Linked DNA regions of Homo sapiens: regions 1 and 3 are each linked to region 2. Evidence: fine-mapped expression QTL. A gene starts in region 2. Each other region holds a variant in brackets. All regions are shown on one strand. Distances are between the middles of the regions.

Region 1 (6,413 bases), 55 kb after region 2:
TTCACCCACAGGCACCATCGCTTACTCTGCCTGGCTCGCGGGTCGGTGAAGGGAGTGGCTGCCCTTCTGCTCAGCTCGGTCTTTGTCCCATTATTTTCTCCATTTGTTCTGCTGAAGAGACAGCCAGGAGGCAGTGAAGTGGCCCCTCCAAGGTCAAGGCAGCATGCAAACCCCACCTGCCCGCTGAGCCTGACATTTATTTTATCACAATGGGTTTCAAGCAGGAAGATTGCCCTGTCCTGAGGACAGGACAGCCAGCTTCATGGGCACTTGACATGAAAACCTCCAGTGGCCTCAGTACCCAGGTGGGGGTGGGAGCACTGCAACCCTCAGGGCAAAACCAAGGAACATGAAGGTGTTGGGGATGCACCTGGGCCTCAGCCTGGCAAAGAGCCCAAGAAACACCCAGGTAGACTTTGGGAGTGGGAAAGACTCCACCCACGGTCTCCGAGAGAAGGAGGCTAATGGGGCAGGGGGTGAAGACAGGATAAATGAAGGAACGCAAGAAGCCTAAGGGGGAAGGTGGTTTGAGGGCTGAAGCCCAGGTTGAGACTAGAAGGCCAGGCAGAAGCATTCAGATCCCAGGTCCTGTAAATTCTTTCCCACTGGGGAAAGAATTTGTCCTACAGGAAGGCTGAGGAAAGGCTCTGCTGAGTCTATCTTCGCTTTGTTTTTTGCAAGAAAAGTTTTCCTTTTGTGAAAACTTATCATACAGATTGGGCCATTCTTGTCACACCCAACTAAAACACAGTCAAGAATCCAGTGGGGATAGCACCCAGAGCACAATACATTGCTCCAAAAATGTAATTATCTGTAGGCCTAGCAGCTGAAACTGCCTGCAGTAGCCTGAAACCAGTTTTATCTAAGACTCCTGAAATGACCTGCTGCAACTCTCAGACTAGCTTTGCCCATGGCTGTCACTTCCCAATCAGAGCTTGCCAGCTACTCAGAACCTTACTAGTGCTGGTGAAATTTCTCAAAGAGCAATGCATAACATTTCTTCTTTCTATAAAACCTCTGACCTTCTATTTGTTCTTCAGAGAGAGCACTTTTGATTCACGCTGGAAACTCTCTCCATCAGTTTGGTTTGCAAACTGATGTTGACATTAAAGCCCTCTCTTCGACTACCCAGCCATCCTGGTGGTCCTTTGGGTAACACTTGCTTCATGAGGCTGTACAATGGTCTAATAAGAGGGCAGAGGAAATTCATGGTAAGCCCTTTATCCCCAGGGACAGCTCCTGGCAGGACAGGTGCTGGAGGAGGGGGAAGGCTTTCTGTCCTTTTTCATTGCTTATCCCTTTTGTCTTGCCTGCATCTGATGTTGAGTTTGGTTTCTCAGATTAATATTTCTTTCCAGAGTAGCCAAAAAAATCATCTGCCACCGAGTTGGACTGGTTAGAGCACCCTCCCCTTGCATTTTTAATGATCTGACCAAATAATAATAATTCCCAAAGAGTCCTTAGAAATCCAGAGAGGTAGGTTTGCAAAATCAATGTTGAAAATGTCAGAACAGGCTTGCAAAATTCACATTACAAAAATTGCATGCAGCCCCCGCAATCAACTGAAGGCATCTGGCTGTTGCAGACACACCAGCCTCACCTGGCTTACCTCAGGTCTCCAATTTGCCCATCCATTTGCAGGGCTTCTCAAGCTCTCTGGGACCACCCAGCTGAAACAGAAGCACTGTGCTGTCCCCTGGGTAAGGAGGGAAGCCGGGCTGCTAGAATGACAAGGCATGGGAAAAAGGCCTGACTCCTGAAATATTGTTCATTCTCCAAAAGCTGTCTGATCAAGGATTTTCAGATGCATGAAGTCAAAGTTACCTACCCTTTTTCAGGGCAACGATATGGAAATGTAAGTCAAGATAAGCAGAGGAAAGGCAAAGAACTGTGAGGCCTGTGAGGGAGGCCAAAAAACATGCTCTGGCATAAGCCAGCAAGGGCAGCTTCTCAAGAAAAGAAATTCCGGCCCTTGACTCTTATGGACCCATTCTCTTTCTGTTGGCCTTAGACACAGAAACTAAGACACATGTTTAGTCAACGATGAATATATGAACATTAACATCAGACAAGATATTTGAAATTGAAAGTGACCTAGAAAATAAAACTATTGAGTGTATGATCATGTTAGACCCTACCTGCTGAAAAATTCCTTTAACAAGGGGTTGATTAAGTGGCATTTTAGAATTTAGAAAGCACTTCTCAGCTACAAAGATGATTGCTAGTTTCTTACCTAATCACAAAGAGGCACAGACTGGTGTTTTCTCTGTGGCTTTTACAGAGACCATAGTATATTATATACACAGCTCTACACTTAGTTTCTCTCTCTGAGCAAGAGTAGAGGGTTGCCTTGTTCTGTTAACGCTTTGGAGTGAGGTTAGCTTTGTGTGTGTGTAGGATTTATTCAGCTCTGGCCCCAGTCATTGGATAAAGGGTTTGCTATGATAAACATCTGAGCCTACATGCATGTATGGACACGTACAGGAAACGTCCTTACATGGGGACGCGTCAGGCACGTGGTGTTGGCATTCTTTACTTTGTGTGATGCTGCCAATCACCCTCTGTGAAGGTGGTGCTGGTTCACACTGCTCATCCTCACTTCATGGTGTGGGCACACTCCCTGGTGGGTCCCAACCTGCCGGGTGAAGCAGGAGCAACTCACTGCAGTTTTGAGTGCGTTTTTCTCATCTTTCCCTGTGTATAAGAGGCAGTTATTTGAACAATGAGATCACATGGACACAGGAAGGGGAATATCACACTCTGGGGACTGTGGTGGTGTGGGGGGAGGGGGGAGGGATAGCATTGGGAGATATACCTAATGCTAGATGACGAGTTAGTGGGTGCAGTGCACCAGCATGGCACATGTATACATATGTAACTAACCTGCACAATGTGCACATGTACCCTAAAACTTAAAGTATAATAATAAAAATAAATAAATAAATAAATAAATAAATAAATAAAGAGGCAGTTATTTTTCTGTTTCTGTCTCTATCCCTTGTCCATTTGCTGTGGAGTTGTTGATTTTTTAATCATGGATTAATAATAATAACTTGAAATAAAAAAACTAACCCCTTTGAATTTGATATATGATACAAATATATTTCACAGTATCATGTTTTAATTTTTTTAAGTTTTGTTTTATTAATATGTAGATTATTTCTATTTTATATGCAGTTAATGCATTAATTTTTTGGTTTTTATTTCTTGTCCCTTATTCATACTTCTCTTCTTTACCCCAAAATTATTTATTTTTCTAATTCTCCTACATTTCCTTCCAGTAAATTTATGATTTCACCTTTAGGTGAAATAGCATTATACTTAAATGCTATGTTATACCATATATATTTAAATGCTATATTAAAATGTCCATCCTGGACAAAGTCTGGAGCTCCTCAATCTCAGTTTTGTCTTCATGTTTTGCACAAGCTTTCTCTCTTTGTGTCTGGCTTACATTCTG[C/T]GTGTTGTTTTGGATGTGTGTGTTCCTCCTGCTTATTTGGACATTGTGAGTTCCATTTCTAGCTCATTTTGTTGTTACTCCTGTAACTCTATCCTTTGATGAGATAATGTACCCGTGATTTAGACAGAATTTTCGAAGCACTGTGCTTTTTCTATTTCCCTCCATCACCTGACCTTAGTTATGTTATTTTTAAAAATTCTTCTGGTGTTTACATCTGTTCTTTAAATATTAATTGATTTTATCAATTTGAATGGATTCCTTTTGGACCCTAGGAACAAGTATGGCATGTCCGAGGTATTCAGCTTATAACCAGGGCTTTCAAGATTACTTGAAAGGAAAACATTCAAAAATGTATTTTAAAAAATTGTTAAACAGGGAAGCATGAGACATTATGATGCAAACAGAGTGACCTAATGTTCTTAGCTAAGCAAGGGAGAGGTCCTCAGGGTCAGGTTTTCCAGGACGCAGTGCTACCCCAGCTTCCCTCCCCGCACCAGAGTGACTTTGGGGGCTGTCAGCCACACCCCACTCTGAGTCGGCCTAAGCTGAGTGTCAAGCATTGTGGACATGGCTGCAGCCAGCGGTCCTGGGTATGTCCCTCTGCTGACCACTTGACACCCAGTCCTGGTGGCTTTGACCGCAGCTTGGTCTTGGAGCTGTCCCCATGGCCCTCAGAGTCTCTGAAGGGAGGAATCCAGGAACACTACAGTAAACCAAAGCCCAGCTCTTTGCGAGGGCTGTGCTTCCATAAGTAAGGCACAGGCTGCGAAGTCCTCACCAGGAGTAGAGGTCCTCAAGAGACCCTCTCTGTCCTTTGTCCAGCCTCCTGGGCATCAGTGCCATCATCTCTGGGGACAGCGTGTATCTGTAGCTGTTCACTTTGTAAGCCTAATGCCCAGCATCTGTCTCCTGGGCATCTGTGTCCTGGGCATTAGGCTTAGAAAAACAAATGACAGGTGCCTCTGGCCTCTTGGGCCTCACAGTGTTTTGAGAACAGACACCTAGATAAGTGACAAAACGTCAAAGCTCCAAAGAGCAGCAGCAGGTGCAGGCAGGGGACCCTGACATAGAGATAGTGACTCTGCTTTCAGGGGGACACTGAAGAGTGTGATCTGAGGGGAGGTGGAGGGCTGAGCAAGCAGAGATTAGGCAGTGTTGGGATGGGGCCATTCCTCCAGCCTCCTGCCCACCATCTCACAACTCCAGTTTTTCCCACTTCCCGGTACCTCCTGTTAAAACCCTTTGAGACGGGACACATGATGAAAGCATTTGCACGGCCTTGGTCAGCTCGGACATCTGCCAAGGCTTGGATTCTCCTTTCATCAAAGCCAATGGATTCTGCACGCAGCTCCCAAGAGCTGGAAACAAAGTGGGAGAACCCTGTCTGGAGCAGTGTATTCATTCATGCGTGCATTCATTCAACGTGCATTTATCAAAGGGCCACTTTGATGTGCTGGAGATATAGGGATGAACAAACCGGACCAAGTCCTCCCCCGCACAGGGCTTGCCTTCTAGTGGGGTGGCAGCCAACATGAAATTAAACACAAGTATACTATCGAGTAGGTAAATGCTATGAACAAAAATGCAAAAAGCCAGATGCTCAAGGGCAGAGGCTGATGTTTTGGGTACGGTGGTTTGGGAAGGCCTCAGGAGCTCACCTTTGAGCACTAGGTGTGGCCAACATGTCGAGGGTAATGGGGTAGGTTTGACTAATCAACCACAAAAGAAGGCCTCTGACAGAACTTAGAGGAAGTAGCAAACGTTGCAGAAGGAACTAAGTTTGTCAAATCACAGCCTGTGTAGTATCTGGTCACAGAGAGAGTGGGTGGGCCAGGCCTGCATGGATCCTTGAGGAGAGGTCTTAGGCCGGCCGACAGCAGTCCAGGAAACATACCAGAGCAGTGCCCCTGGATAGGCTCTGGTCCAGCATGGGCTATGGTCCAACCCGGCCAGGGAAGCCCCCAGCCCCAGGCTGAAGGATGTACAGCAGGCGGCTTTCCTGGAAATGCTGGCTCGATCCAGGTCAGGTGCACGGAGTGAGGCCTAGTGGTGCCGTGAATGCCCACTCCTGCCACCAGCCCAACTCAGTGCAGAGGGGGACCTAGATACATTTGCTAGACAACAGGGTGCCAGGGCATTCTCTTCTCTTCTCATAACATAATATTTCCTGTACTATAGCTTACACTTCAGTAGGTGGCGAAGTCCACGTGAGCTAAGCATTCTGTGCAGTGGTGATTTTTGATGATTTCTGGTAGCAAATTGAGCCAATAAAATGTGACCACCATGAAGGTAAGAAGGTAATCAGGGTCTTTAGAGTCTTGAATGCATGGGTTATGAGCCCCACATTTCGGTCGCCTGTTAAATATCAGGCCTTTCTGGGTGATGGGCTGTCTAATATTCTTTCTTGCCTGTATTTTTCTACATTGTTTGAATTTTATATCTACACATGTATCGTTTAAAAGGGAAGCTCTTTTCCAAAATGCTAACACTCCTGTTTTCATAAGTATGATTTTCATAATCCCAAAGCAGGAAAAGCAGTCATCTCTGTGCTGAGCACTAGGGAAACCTCAGATGACTCAGCCCCATGGAAAGCAAGCCACTTCCTGCCGTGTTAAAGGAGACTGCGCTGACCTTCAAATCCAGCGAGTGGTGACACGGGTCTGTCAGCTAGTGTTAGGGATTGTGTAGTTATTTTTTATGAAGGACACAGGAAGCCAGAGAAAAGAGACATTCAGAAGGGAGAGAATTCTAGAAATTCATCACATTTTGTGGGAATCCTTAAAATAATAAGTTTGCAATAAAACTATTTTGAATCACTGAAAGTTTCACTTGTCTTTGGGATTCTATTATCTGGTAAAACAACAACAAAACAATCTCCTAACATCTTTTATTTCATGAGTTGTAGAACCAAGTTTAGATTTTGTACAAAGTTGTAAATTTGTATAGAAAGCAC
Region 2 (6,413 bases):
GGTGACCCCCAGGAATGTGTTCCAGTGCCCCAGGCAGAATGGTGCCGTGTCTCTGTGTGTGTGTGTGTGTGTGTGTGTGTGTGTGTGAGAGAGAGAGAGAGAGAGAAAGAGTGCACACTATCGACTACATTATCATAGGGAGAAATATTTGCAAATGTAACTTTTAAAATGAGGATATAATTTAAATGGCTTTGAGCAGTTTTTGCTGTAAAAATGATTTTAGTTAGTCATCTCTTTCCCTCTTCCTTCCCTCCTTACCCCCAATTTTAAGGAAAAGAGACAGAGAACAAAAGTTCCTTAAGCAAACTGCCTGACTAGCTCCCTACTTGGTGTGTGCGCCACCCACACTTCAGGATTTAAAATCTCAGGATGCTGCATCAACTGTGGACTATGAACTGTGCTAAAATGCTTTAAAATGACAACTTTCAAAACACAGTGCATCATCTCCCGTTCACACATCCTTTAGGAAACAGCCTGATGGAACTTTCTGCAGGGCTTCCTCTGTCTGAGCTCGGAGCACTGGCATTCCGGGCAGGATGAAGTGGAGGCGGGGCCACAGGCAGGGTGTCTGAGGCCTGCCCTGGCTCAAAGACAGGTTGTCCTTGAATTTGTTTCCTTGTTAGTGTTGATCACATCCGTAGTCAAGTGTGTGGTAACCTCAGTACATTTGGATGAATTAATTCAAGTATCTGTGAACAAATCCCTGGCCTCTCTCGCCCTAGCCCCGTAGATTATGTGACTTCACAAACACCTGTAATGCACTTCAAGCAACTTTTCTCATATTTTTCAAGCTTCCTTTGCAAATAAACCCAAGGCTATTAGAAATGTAAGAACTAAAGAGGCACTTCCTGCCTCCTTGCCACCTAAGAGGTTAATTGCACTTCTGGCCATTCTGGAGGATGTCAACAGTATCACATTTAGCAAGACTTGTGCTGGCGAAATGGAGGAATGCAAATGTAAAGAAATGTTTCCAGTCCGAACATGTTCCCTTTGACCAAAAAACCAGATCTTCTTACCTAATTGAATAATTAATTGATTTAGTTTTCATCCTAGGAAGAGAAACAAATCATTTCAATCCTAATCAGCATGAGCAACTCACCTTTTCCTCTTAGATGGTGGAAGTGAGCAGAGAAGATATTCAGGGGAGCCCCTTAGCCCCGGCCTCCTCACACCCTGATCCGGAATTGGTCACATTGGAATTTGAAAAGGGAGGGGGAGTAACAATCATTATAGAGTCACGAAATCCCCACCGTGGCACGCCAACACACAGCTTCCACTTCAGGAACATCAAACACCCGTAGAAAATACCTGCATGTTCCAAGGGGCCTTTAAGGAGGAGACTTACAATTGTTTGCTAAGATTCCAGTCCAGTCTTTCAAAAAAATGTGGGTGCCCCTTTGGAATGGGGAGTTCAAAGCTCTGAGGATGGTGGCTGGTGACTCTAGTGTCTCTAGGGCCACCTCACTTTCAGCAGTCTGTCCCAGGTGTCGGACTATGGGAAACAAAACAGACAGCGTTGGAAGCCATGGCGCCTCTGTGCCTGCACGTCCCCACCTTGGGAGAGAGCCCCACGTGCGGCCGTGCTGCAGATGGGCAGTATGCTCTAAGGGGGCCCGAGTGCCTGGCGTGGGGGGAGGTTGAGGGGTCAGCTGCAAGGACCAGGGTGTGTCTGCCCACAGGAAACCTGGGCCTGCTCTTGCTGCCACCTCTTTGTACTGTAGTCAGTGCCCCCATGCCTGCCCATCCCCTCCCCCGGTCACTCAGGGCCCCCTTTACCTGTACTGGTTCTCCATGGCCCTGCTCTCAGCTCGCTCTGGAACCCAGGAGTAACTGTCTGCCGCATTCTGGGGCTTCTTCTCCTTCTTCTCCTCCCTCTTCGCTCTCCGCTTGCGATAGACCAGTAGCCCCAGAGCCAGGGCCAGCAGGAGTAGGATGGCCACCACGGTGCCTAGGATGTAGAATAAAAGCAGCTTTTGCCCGTCAGTGCCATCGTTGTTTTGTGTGGCCACGGAGGAGTCCCCACCTGCAGGCTCCTGGGGGCCAGAGGCAGCTGTGGCGTGATGGATGCTGGGCTCCCTCCAGACGCCTGGGGACCCACTGGGGGCCAGCATCTTGAGTGGGGCAGATGTGATGGGGGCGTCAGATGACAGCGAAGGTCTACTTGTGGTGGGTGTAGCCTTGGGGGTGCCCTCGGGGCCCCTTGTGGGACTGGCTGTTGCAGCACGGGGCACGGTGCTCCCTTCTTTCTCTCCTTTGTCCTCCTCATCGGGGGGCCCAGATGGTGGTCCCAGAGACACAGGCCCCATGGTGCAAGAGACCCCATTTGGGGCCAGCACCCAGCCTGGCAGGCAGCCACAGTGGAAGGACCCTTGTGTGTTGAAGCACAAGCTGTCGCAGAGGGGGCCCCCCGGGCCCACACACTCATCCACGTCCTGGCACTGAGTCCCGTCCTCCCCGGCCAGGACGTAGCCCTCCTCACAGGAGCAGTGAAATGAGCCATCTGTGTTGGTGCAGCCCTGGGCGCAAGGCGAGCGACCCAGAGCACACTCATCCACATCCTGACAGGCCCCCTCTCCAGGACCGCCCGGCTCATAGCCAACCCAGCATTCGCAGCGGAAGCCCCCAGGGGTGTTGACACACTCCTGGGCACAGGGGGAGTCCTGGCATTCATCCACGTCCACACAGTCCAGCTGACTCGAGTCCAGCTGGTACCCTTGGGGGCAGCGGCACGTGTAGTTTTTCCCATGGGGTCCCAGGACGCACGTGGCCCCCCCACGACATGGGCTGGAGCTGCAAGGGTTTCGAGAGGCACAGGTCACCAGGTCATCCAGCAGCCGGAATCCTGGTCGGCAGCCGCAGAGGAAGGAGCCATCCCCCCCTTCAAAGCAGTCCTGGTGGCAGCCCCCATTGTTGAAGTTGCAGCCATACTTGGGGCTGACACAGAGGGGGCCCGAGCTGCCCCAGTCGAACACATCGGGGGCCTTCTCCTTGCACAGGAAATAATGACTCTGAGTCTCGTCCTTGTCACCTTCCCCACAGGCTACATTGGCCGCAGAGGCAAAGGGCACAGCCTCCAAGGAGGAACTGGTGGTCTGGAAGGGGGTGGTGTAGGTCACCTGACCTGGGCCCCCCAGGGCCAGAGGCCGGCACATGCCTTTGAAGCTGAACTTGCACACGAAGCCCTCAATGTTACTTCCGGGGGAGCCTGGGCTCCCACAGGGGCCCTCAGACCACTTGGGGAGGCGGCTGGGAAGGAGCGGCTGGGACAGGTCCAGCAGCAGAGACACACAGCGCTTGGAGATGCACGAGTTCCGGAGCTCCTTGTGCCAGTTAGAGTAAGGCGTGTCCTCCCCCCCGCCCACCCAGCTGAAGCCCTTCAGCGGCAGACTAGGGTCCAGGCACTTGCCCTTCTCTCGCTGGAGCCCAATCCAGAACTTGCTCATCCTCGCCGTCAGGGCTGCCTCCCGCCTCAGGAGCTGGGCCAGTACTCGCTGGACGTGCTGGGCCTCCTCCTTGCTCTTCACAGTGGCCAGGTTGCCCCCGTTCTGGTTGCAGTGGTTCTGGGCCTCGGCAGCGCTCAGCTTGCCCGAGTGGGCCGTGTAGCAGGCGGTCCCCACGCAGACCACCGCCTCCGTGTCAGCTCCCGTCCCCGCCCCGGGCTGGGTCAGGAGCAGCAGCAGCAGCAGCAGCAGGCCCATGGAGGTGGCCATCCCGGTCTCTGTGTGGCCCTCTGCGGGAGGCGAGAAGCCCAGCGGCGACAGGAGCTTCTATCTCGGCTCCCAGCTGGGCCCCAAGGGGAGCTGAGGGGTGAGCTGCAGCCACTCCGGCGCAGAGAAGGACACAAAGGCTGAGGGCTTTCCACGTCCCCCTGACCCAAGGCGCATCCTGTACTGTTGTACTTCTTATTTCTCACCGGATGTTGGGGCTTCCTGCAATGAATAGTTCTCTGACTCCTGCTGCCTTCATCACGGTGCTGTTGTTCATAAAAGGAGTCAGGCAGCTCTGCCGGGTCCCTGGCTCAGCACTGTGGAAACAGCGACGGGGGGAAGACGTTACAGCCCCGAGATACTGCCGGCTTGATTTTGGCTCCATTCTCTTTCTCATGGCATGAGGAGCCTCGGAGGCATGCCATGGAGTGAGCAGGGGCTTTGGGGGCTAGGAACTCGAGGAAGCTCCCTTAGTAACCCATAATAAAATTCCACTTTGGTTTGCAAACCACCAAAAGAGAAAAAAAAAATTCTGAGACTTAAGACACAAGGCCATGGATGGTTATAATTTTCAGCCTTTTTTAGAAGCAAACTGGACTTTCCTTTTGCCTAGCTCATGTTCTCTGTTGACTTTGGGAGCCTTTTTTCTTTTATCCTCCCATCGTGAACCTTAAATAGACAGGCATTTTTTAAATAGGATACGGGTCGTGGGAATGTCTGGGTTTTCAACATAATGCCAAGCTCCTCGATAATGTTAATCCAAATTGGGTGAAATTTGGCAGTTCTGGGGGTTTCATAGTGGAAATATTGCATTGTGAGGTGTCAGGGTCACAAAAAGCATCAGAAAGAAAATGAAAATGTGTCCGGCCTCGTGGCGCAGGGCTTGCAGGCTCACTTCCCCCGGCTCAGGATTCCTAGCAAGGGCCGGAAATCTGGGCAGGGAGCGGGAATCGAAGCCCGGGCAGGCCCTCCCGCGACACCGCGACTCGGCAAAAGCCAGGGACTCACAGTGTGCTTTTCCTGCAGCCACAGACCTTTGCTCATTGGTTGGGATCCCCCAGGAGGGGACCCTGAGACAGGATTTGGGGAGACTAGTTTATGTGGGAGGGGAAGTGAAACAGACAAGGAGGAAGCCAACCCATGATGACTTGCTGAGAAGGTGACCCTGGGCTGCTGGAGCCAGTGCCAGGAAACTCTGGGGGCCTGAGGGGACCACACCTCAGCACCATCTCAGCTGAGGGAGAGGCTCCACTGCTCTCCAAGTCCCCTGTCATTGGTAGCAGGCTGTATCTCTCACTTTGAGAGACTGACTATAAATTCTAGCCCTGCCCAGTGACCAGGGGTCTCTCTCACATAAAACTTGTTTCTATGGACAGACACCCTTGTGGCTCTCGTCTGACCCATGTCCAGTTTATTCCTATCAAGACAGCCACTTCCTAAGAGATCCCTGATGGGAGGAGAGTTGGGTTGGGGTGTGGGTCAGGGGAGATGCAGGAGGCAGCACAAGAAGACACAGGAAGCAACACAAGCACCGTGTCACTTACAGATCCCAGGGAGAGGGCAGTGCACCCCACGGGGCCAGCAAAAAGTGGGGAGCTGTCTGGGTCACAAACACTCACCTGGAGGGGGGTGAAGGGAGAGAGAGAGACCTGGGTCCTAAGCCTTTATTGGGGTCCAGGACGTTTCCCAAGCAGGTTTCCCAAGGGGACTTCTCACTGGTGGGTTTAGAGCAAACAGACACGGGCTCCGTGGGGTCCCTGTGGCTGAGAGGTGGGCATGGCGGCATGTCTGGGAAGTCCCTGTGGGGTGTGGAGTCACTGAGACCATCAAATGGGCTGTATCTGCCTGTCCCACAGGGAAATGGTCACCAGGAGGTGGGTGTACAAGGCAGATATCTGGGTTGGCCGCATTGAGGAACTGGGAGGGGGTGGAGCCCTAGACACCGTGTCAAGAGCAATAAACCCTGCTTCTGGTAGGAGAGGGTCCAAATTAGATTCAAAATGGATGCAATGCACAATTATAAGAATTCTCTACACAGCGGCAACTCTTTGGTGCTCTGCACTGACCGTGAGGGCCCCAGGGGAAGAAGCGCCACGGTGGAGAACACAGTGAACGCCTGTGGACCCGGCACCAGCGACCACCACAGTGGCCTCCATGGAGATGTTGAGTTGTCCCGGGGGCTAGGAGCTCGCTGGCTCCCCAAGGGACAAGGAGGCATCTCTGACTCCAGCTGGATACCTCCTAAGAATGTGCCTTAAGTCCTTGCATTTTAGCAAAGATATTTGAGACATTTTGGGAACTCTCCATAGAAGCCACCAGACCCTCCCTGTGCCCCTTCATTCATCCATCTGTTTGTCCATCCACCCATCTAACAATTGTTGATTAAGACCCTGCTATGCACTGAGTGAGGCACTGGATTCCAGGAGGGGATCCCTGCCTCTGTGATCCTGGAGTCCTGTTAGAGTGGACAACTTTGAACAAGTCACGGCACTGATGGCTTTATTGCAGGCAGCACAGGGGAGCGGGGAGGTCGTGGTTGATACAGGGGTGGCATCCTGACTGGGGGATGGGCAATTAGGAGAGACTCCTCTGGAGAAGACAGGCAGTCAAGCCGGAATCTAAAGGAGAAGCAGCTCAGATGTGGAATGGTGTCGGGATGGGGGAACAGCATGTACAGAAGCCCTGGGGACAGAGAGTGAGTGAAGG
Region 3 (6,413 bases), 41 kb after region 2:
TTAGCTGTCACCACATGCACACATACATTCTGGGCCTCTGCTGTGCGCGTCACGTTCACTGAAGATCTTGGGATTGGGAGTTAGGGCGGTGGGAGGGCCCAGCAAAGTCACCTGGCGATGGCAGGGACACAGGGAGGAATGTAGAATGGGGCCGATGATGGGACCCACACGTCTGCAAAGCTGCGGTCTCCTTGAGGGGTGGAGACAGCAACAACTCACCGCACGCGGTGCTTCAGTTCACCATCTCCCTGGGACATTAGGGGTCCCCGTGTTATCTCATTTTGCTCTGGTTTGCATTAGTTTTTTATCACTTCGTAGATGAAGCCACTGACACCCAGAGAGGGAAAGTGGCCTGACCAAGGGCCACAGCAGGGGAGCGAAGGAGCCCCACAGTCCGGCAGGAACACAGCCTCTCCCTGGCTTTCAGGTTCACTGACATCTTCTCATGGCCTCTGTAACTCACCAGGCATCAGGGTGTAGTCCTTAGACCAGTGTCCCACAGCTGCCACAGAGTGGGAGCTCACCATCAGTTATAAGTCACTAGAAAGGCTTTTGGACATTATAAGCTACAATGGAAAATAAGTCATCTGTGGATTTTTGTGACAGATTCCAAAAATTTGAATATTTTGTCTACTTAGGTTTTTGGTTAATTTTATCCTCAAAACTGTTCTGCAGTGATTAAGCTGTACAAACTGCACCATGGGCGAATTGGCATATTCAGAAATGACTGATATTCTTGATTTCAGTTTTTTACTTTGTATGTAGCTCCTCAAGGAAACATCATGTAACTTGATTCCCTGGGAAGGTCCAGTGCATGGCACGCATGGGCCAGAGGCCACTCTCCTCCATCCGTAGACCACACGTGTGGACAAGCCCCCAGCATGCCTAGAGGAGCAAGGCCAGGGCTGTGCATGCTGAGGCGCCCGTGGCCAGTGTCAACAGGAAAAACTAACTCCGCCAGTTGTACACGTCAGCCAGGTGTGGGGTCATGCATTTCTCAACCCTCGGGGACTCCTCAGGATGGGATGGAAGATGTGTAGGTAGATTTTGAAGAAACTGCAGATGGTGTTTCAGAGAGACGGTAGAACCATCCATCTCCACTGTAGCCCAGGAATAAAACTGTGCAGCTTGACATCCCCTCTCCCATTCAGGAATAAAAAGGAACAAACAACTGATACACACAACATTTGAATCTCAGAATCACTATGTGGAGTGAAATAAGTCAGATACAAGAACATCTGTATGATTCCAATCACATAGAATGAAAATTAACCTCTAGTGGCAAAAAGCTGGTCAATGGTAGCCTGGGCCCAGGAGTGAGAGGGGCCTGTCTGCCAAGGGGCACGGGGAACTTTAAGAGGGAGCAGAGATACACTGTGGCGGTGCTGCCAGGGCCCCTTAATAATGCACTGTGAATGTGCGCTTTGTGAGACAAAGTAGTAAACATAGGAAACCACGTTTGCTCATTTGTGCTTGGCAGCAGAATTTCACAAAGTGCCTGTCTCTATAACGATGTGCAGCTCCCCAGAAAGATGCTCTGAAGACAAAACAGGATGGAGCACACACCCTCTCCGGACTCTTGCCTGAGTCACTATATTCTTTGCAGATAAATGGCCCTGGTCTTACCTTTTCCTACACGTAAGATAACATCTGACAGGGTCAGTGATTATTGCTCTGTAATTGAATCCATAACCTGATGCACTCTGACACCCAAGCTTTCATGTGACTTTGCACGTACTGGACCTCCCACCTATATGTCAACTGTGACCTGAAATACAGAACCTCAGTGGAGGCTGCTCCAGGGCTCTACGCCACAGCCTGTAGTCCTCGGTAAGCTTCTGAAGAAGACGAACTTTAATTCTTTAAAAGCTTGACAATAACTTTAAATGGATATGATTTATTGCCTGTAAATTATCCCTCAATAAAGTTGATAAGGATAAAAAGAAAAACTCTGTGATCTGGACACAGAACGAGCAGCCCTGGGTTATCTTTGCATTCTAGAAGGGGCCTAATATTTGTGTTAGTAGCAACAGCAGTGATGGCTGGAAGCCAGATTGTGCTTACTTGCACCAGGTGCTGAGCTGGGCACTGTATGCATCGGAGGAGGGGCATGGTGGCATGCTAATAGACCTTTATTTACAGTAACAGGCAGTGGGGTGGGTTCGGCCATGGACAGAGGTTTGCAGACATCCCAAGTTAAGGCACTCTGGCAGGTGTGCCTGGCGGGTCTTGGGAGCTGGGCCTCCAGAGGTTTGTGCTGACAAAAAGGCCAATGACCCCTCCTCCTGGCATTCTTGTGGGGATGGATGTGATGGGGTGTGGCACACAGTGATCAGGCCAGGTAACGGTGACTGAGACGCAGGGAAAAGGTGTTTCATTTAAGAAGGGTCGAGGTCAGTCTCCCCTCAGACCCAGCTTCCCTTGAGCCAGCTCAGTCCAAAGAGCACGCTGCCCTTCCTTCCGCACACTGGAGCACGCAGCCCTGGACCCACATTTCTCAACAGGAGCAAAAAAAGGAAGTCGGGAAGAGAAGCACAAAGCCAGTGAGTGAGGACTGGGCTTGCAGCACCCCCAAGGGCTCCCCAGGGAGAGGGTGGTTAGAACATCTGTGAGATTGCAGTCTAGGGTGACTCAGTGGAGCAACTGTCAAAGGTGCTAAGCTGGGATTTCTCAAGGCCCATCTTCCCCAGAGCTCCTCCCAGCCACAGACCCACAAAGGGCCTCCCTCATGGGTCTCAGTTACACCAGCTTCTCCCCACAGCACCAACAATCCTGTCAGCTTCTTCCCAGGCAGCAGCAGGCCTCACATCCCCACCAAAAGGGACACCATTGTGATAGCCTGGGCTGCAGAGATGCACGCCCTGCAGGGACAGCTGTAGGTCTTGGCACAGATACAGTGGCCTGGGCTAATCTTGAGCTGGGCCTTTGCCTCCTGGGTTACTGATGAGAAGCTCTGAGGCTGAGGCCAGTGGATGCCCCCCAGACCTCTCCACTCTCCCCAAGCACCCAAGGCCAGTTCTATGACTGTCCTGGTGAGTGCCAGATGCAGGGAAAG[T/C]GGCCCCCTGTGTGGGGCAGGTGGCTTCTGCATTTCTGATTAGGGGGCCAGGAAGGAGGCATTCAGGAGAAAACACCAAGTCAGAAAAAAGGTTCCCAGGACTGGGGACGAAAGACTCAGAAGGAGGGGAAAGAGGAAGAAAGCTGTAGGGGAAGGGAAGGGAGGGGGATGAGAAAAACGCTGGGGAACACCACTGAAGTTACTTCAAGCTAGCAACACTGGACGCTCAGGTCTTCTGTTGCATGGGTTACCGGGTTACATGCCAAGGGCTCAGTGGCTGCCTGTGGCTGGTGGCTCCTGTACGGGACAATGAAGATACAGAACTCGTCCATCATCACAAAAAGTACTACTGGACGGCACTGGCAAAGCCTAACCACATGTAAACTTTACTCAGGACATGAGGGGTTCCTGGCCTTCCGCCCCCACCCCCGGGAGCCTGGGGCCTTGGGTTTAGGCTGTCACTCAAACCCAGGGTCTCCCCACCTCGCCACTGTGGGCATTTGTGGCCAACCACTGCCTGTGATAGGGACTGTCCTGGGCACTGTAGGGTGTTGAGCAACAACCAAAACCTATCAGATGTCACCCAGTGTCACCCTGTTGACAGCCACTGCTCTAAATGGAAACAATGTGGCTTTGGGGTGAAAGGGGACCTGGGGGAAGTCTGGATCTGTCTCCAGAGCTTGGAGCTCCCGTGGGCCTGGCAGACGCTGGGGGTCCAGGGTCACAGGCTGAACCTGAGATGTTCCAACAGGAGGGGCCTGCCTGAGGGCCTGGGCTCAGAAATGAGGGGGCAGGAGTACATGCAGAGGGGACCCCTGCCTAGGGAGCTCAGGTCCTGCCTTGCAGGGACCTGAGGGGCCAGGCTGGAGGGAAGAAAAACTAGAGACCAGAAGATTCTAGAACACCAGATACAGCTATAGCAGAAGGCAAGGGGACTTAGAGTGATTTGGGCACTAGGATCAGGGCTGATGCGGGAGGGCAGGCAGGAGTGCTGGGGGGTTGCCTTGGTGGGGTTCGGGGAGGGGACTGAGCTGGGGTCAGGGACAATCAAGAATTCCTGGAGGGCAGCAAAGTAAAGAGGTTAAGCTGAGAGGCAAGGAGGCATCAAAGGAAGCGAAGAGGTGGGGACCAAGGGGACCCCAAGGAGTCAGGACTGAGGGGGCTGCCTGAGTGGGAGAAGAAAGGAGTCTGGGCCACAGGATTCTGAGGAATCTCACTCCTGAGTTGGGACCAGTGGGAGCCATGAGCCTGGGAAGAAAAGGGGCCCTGATGCGGGGCCAGGCCTGGGCTGGAGATCAGAGCCAGCAGGCCTCACGGAGCAGGATGTGAGCAGGGGGCACAAAACGCAGGGAAACCCAGGGGCTGTGGGCCACTAAGGGCTGGGGACAGCACATCAGGGCCCTTGGCCTGGCCGAAGCACAGCCAGGAGGTTTAACTCCAGGTGGAGTGGGCAGAGGTTGGTACTCGGGTCACATGGGCATGGCAGTTAGTACATGGACCCGGAGATGCCTGGACTGGGGCCTGGGCACTGGAAGTTAGAATGGGGGACTTTGGTAATGGGGATTGGCCAGGGAGGAGCTGGCATCGAGGGGCCACAGGAGACAGAAACTAGGCAAGGCAGCTTGACCTCGGCCCGCTGGGAATCAGGGGTCTAGGAAAAGGAGGAGTTTGGCGTGAAGGTGAGAGGCACGGGTTCCAGGGCACATAGCCCTTGTCAAGGGTGGGCCCATGGCTGTGGAAGGGAGTGCTGTGGATTATTGGACACTGGGCAGGGAGAGGCAGGGTCCAAGACAGCCAGGCTCTGCCTTGGCTGGGGCCTAAGTAAGGGTTTGGGGACCCAAGAGAGGTCTGTAGGCTGGAAATGAGCTGGACAGGCCAGAGTTACAGGGCCTAAAGCCTGGGAACAGTGACCGGGCTGAGGGATGGGGCAGGCTGGCCCTGGGAGGCCGAGGGGTCCAGGGGTTCCATGCACTGCAGGTCACCCTGCTGCATGGATAGATGGTGAATGTGGTTTTGGCATGGGCAGTGGCACAGCGGGAAGAAGACTGTGAAGCCAGCAGCAGGGACAGCCACGAAACCCTCAGCCTGCTCAGCATCTCCCCCTTTCCTCCGTCATCCTGGTTGGTGGCAGCCCCTCCGCCTCATCTCTGCATGGGGTGGGGGGGTAACTTTATATTATGAACTAATCATCATGAGAACCCCATAAGGAAGACCATATGGTTATCCCCCTTGCACAGATATATTGAGTCACTTACCCAAGATCACACAGCTAATTAACACCAGCGCCTAATTCAAACTCAGGCAGCCTAGTTCTGAGGCAGCGCTATTCAATCAATATGCACTTAGGGAACAGGCGGCCAGGAAGTGCAGGTGGGCCCCACCCTTACCCCTGCTCTGTGCTGAGGCCGCTGCCGAGCTGTCTATTCAGAGTCAGCTCCTCTGGTGCTGGAAGATGCTGGCACTCAGTGCTCCATCGCCTCTCAGTGAGCTGATCATGACAGGAGAATGACAGAAAATGACCAGGTGTTGCCACCCACCACTGTGAGGCTGGTGGTCCCTGTCCCTTAGAGAGGGCGAGCTGGGCTCATGGGGATGCAGAGGCAGCTGCCCTTTCCCACTGGGTGACCCTGGTGGAAATCTGGGAGCTGAGGGTGTGGACTGCCTGCAGGGAGGCCTCACCTAATACCTCTAATAAAAGCACCCCTCGTGTGCCGGGCACTGACCTGGAAGTTGGAGTGACTCACTTGAGGCACCAGAAATGCTCGCTGCAGTGCAGATGTTAGGACCTGGGTTCAGAAAGCAGATCCCTAAATGAGCCTCTGGGGTCCACGGCTTCTGGTCCACGTGCCCACGGCTTGGTGAGGTCTGGGAGGTCTCCCTGAGGGAGGCAGGACTTGAGTGGGACCGTGAAGGGCAGAAATAACCTGAAAAGTGGGGACAAGGCAGAGGATAGAGAAATGGAGGGAGGGAAGGCCTCCCAGGGCACAGTCCTTCTCGGAGGCCCCGAGACATGCCTTCTCCCCAGTTACCCTCCAATAAAGGGAATGCAGCACCACAAGAAGACTCAGTGGCACCATCCCTGGCTGCAGAGGGGCCACCCAGCTGCTCACGGTGTCCTCACTCCATTCTCATTCTTTGCCTAATGCTGATGTCTCGCATGGAATATTTTTCTTATCTACTTTGATAAGACATGGAGGTCAGAAGAAAATAGTTCTCAAACCAGAGTTGGCCTAAAACACTACACAGGCTGTAAACCACAGATTTCCTTCTGCATACCATCCCTGCTTCCTCTTCCCATCTGACTGTAAGGGAAAGCAGGAACTCCAGAAAGGGGTCTTTGTAACACACTTCCAGGAGA

What was found. PIP is the estimated chance that this variant, and not a neighbour inherited with it, causes the effect.
Region 1: its variant is fine-mapped to the expression of CD93 in whole blood (TOPMed, PIP above 0.99).
Region 3: its variant is fine-mapped to the expression of CD93 in whole blood (INTERVAL, PIP above 0.99).

The regions. Positions count from the first base shown.
Region 1 is chr20:23,137,212-23,143,624 of GRCh38, forward strand. No RefSeq gene overlaps it. Among named protein-coding and RNA genes, the nearest start is that of LINC03125, 7.7 kb to the right of the region's middle. RefSeq lists enhancers at 1-421, 5,901-6,195. The variant C/T (reference allele first, on the strand shown) is at 3,461.
Region 2 is chr20:23,082,483-23,088,895 of GRCh38, forward strand. It overlaps CD93 (CD93 molecule), which reads right to left and starts at 3,842. Exons shown (of 2, transcript NM_012072.4): 1 at 1,777-3,842; 2 at 1-1,492. The coding sequence starts at 3,710. The coding sequence ends at 1,468. RefSeq lists enhancers at 3,826-4,005, 5,533-5,672.
Region 3 is chr20:23,123,187-23,129,599 of GRCh38, forward strand. It overlaps LINC00656 (long intergenic non-protein coding RNA 656), which reads right to left. Exons shown (of 4, transcript NR_034149.1): 2 at 5,779-5,979; 3 at 5,443-5,543; 4 at 1,882-3,352. Among named protein-coding and RNA genes, the nearest start is that of LINC00656, 6.2 kb to the right of the region's middle. The variant T/C (reference allele first, on the strand shown) is at 3,056.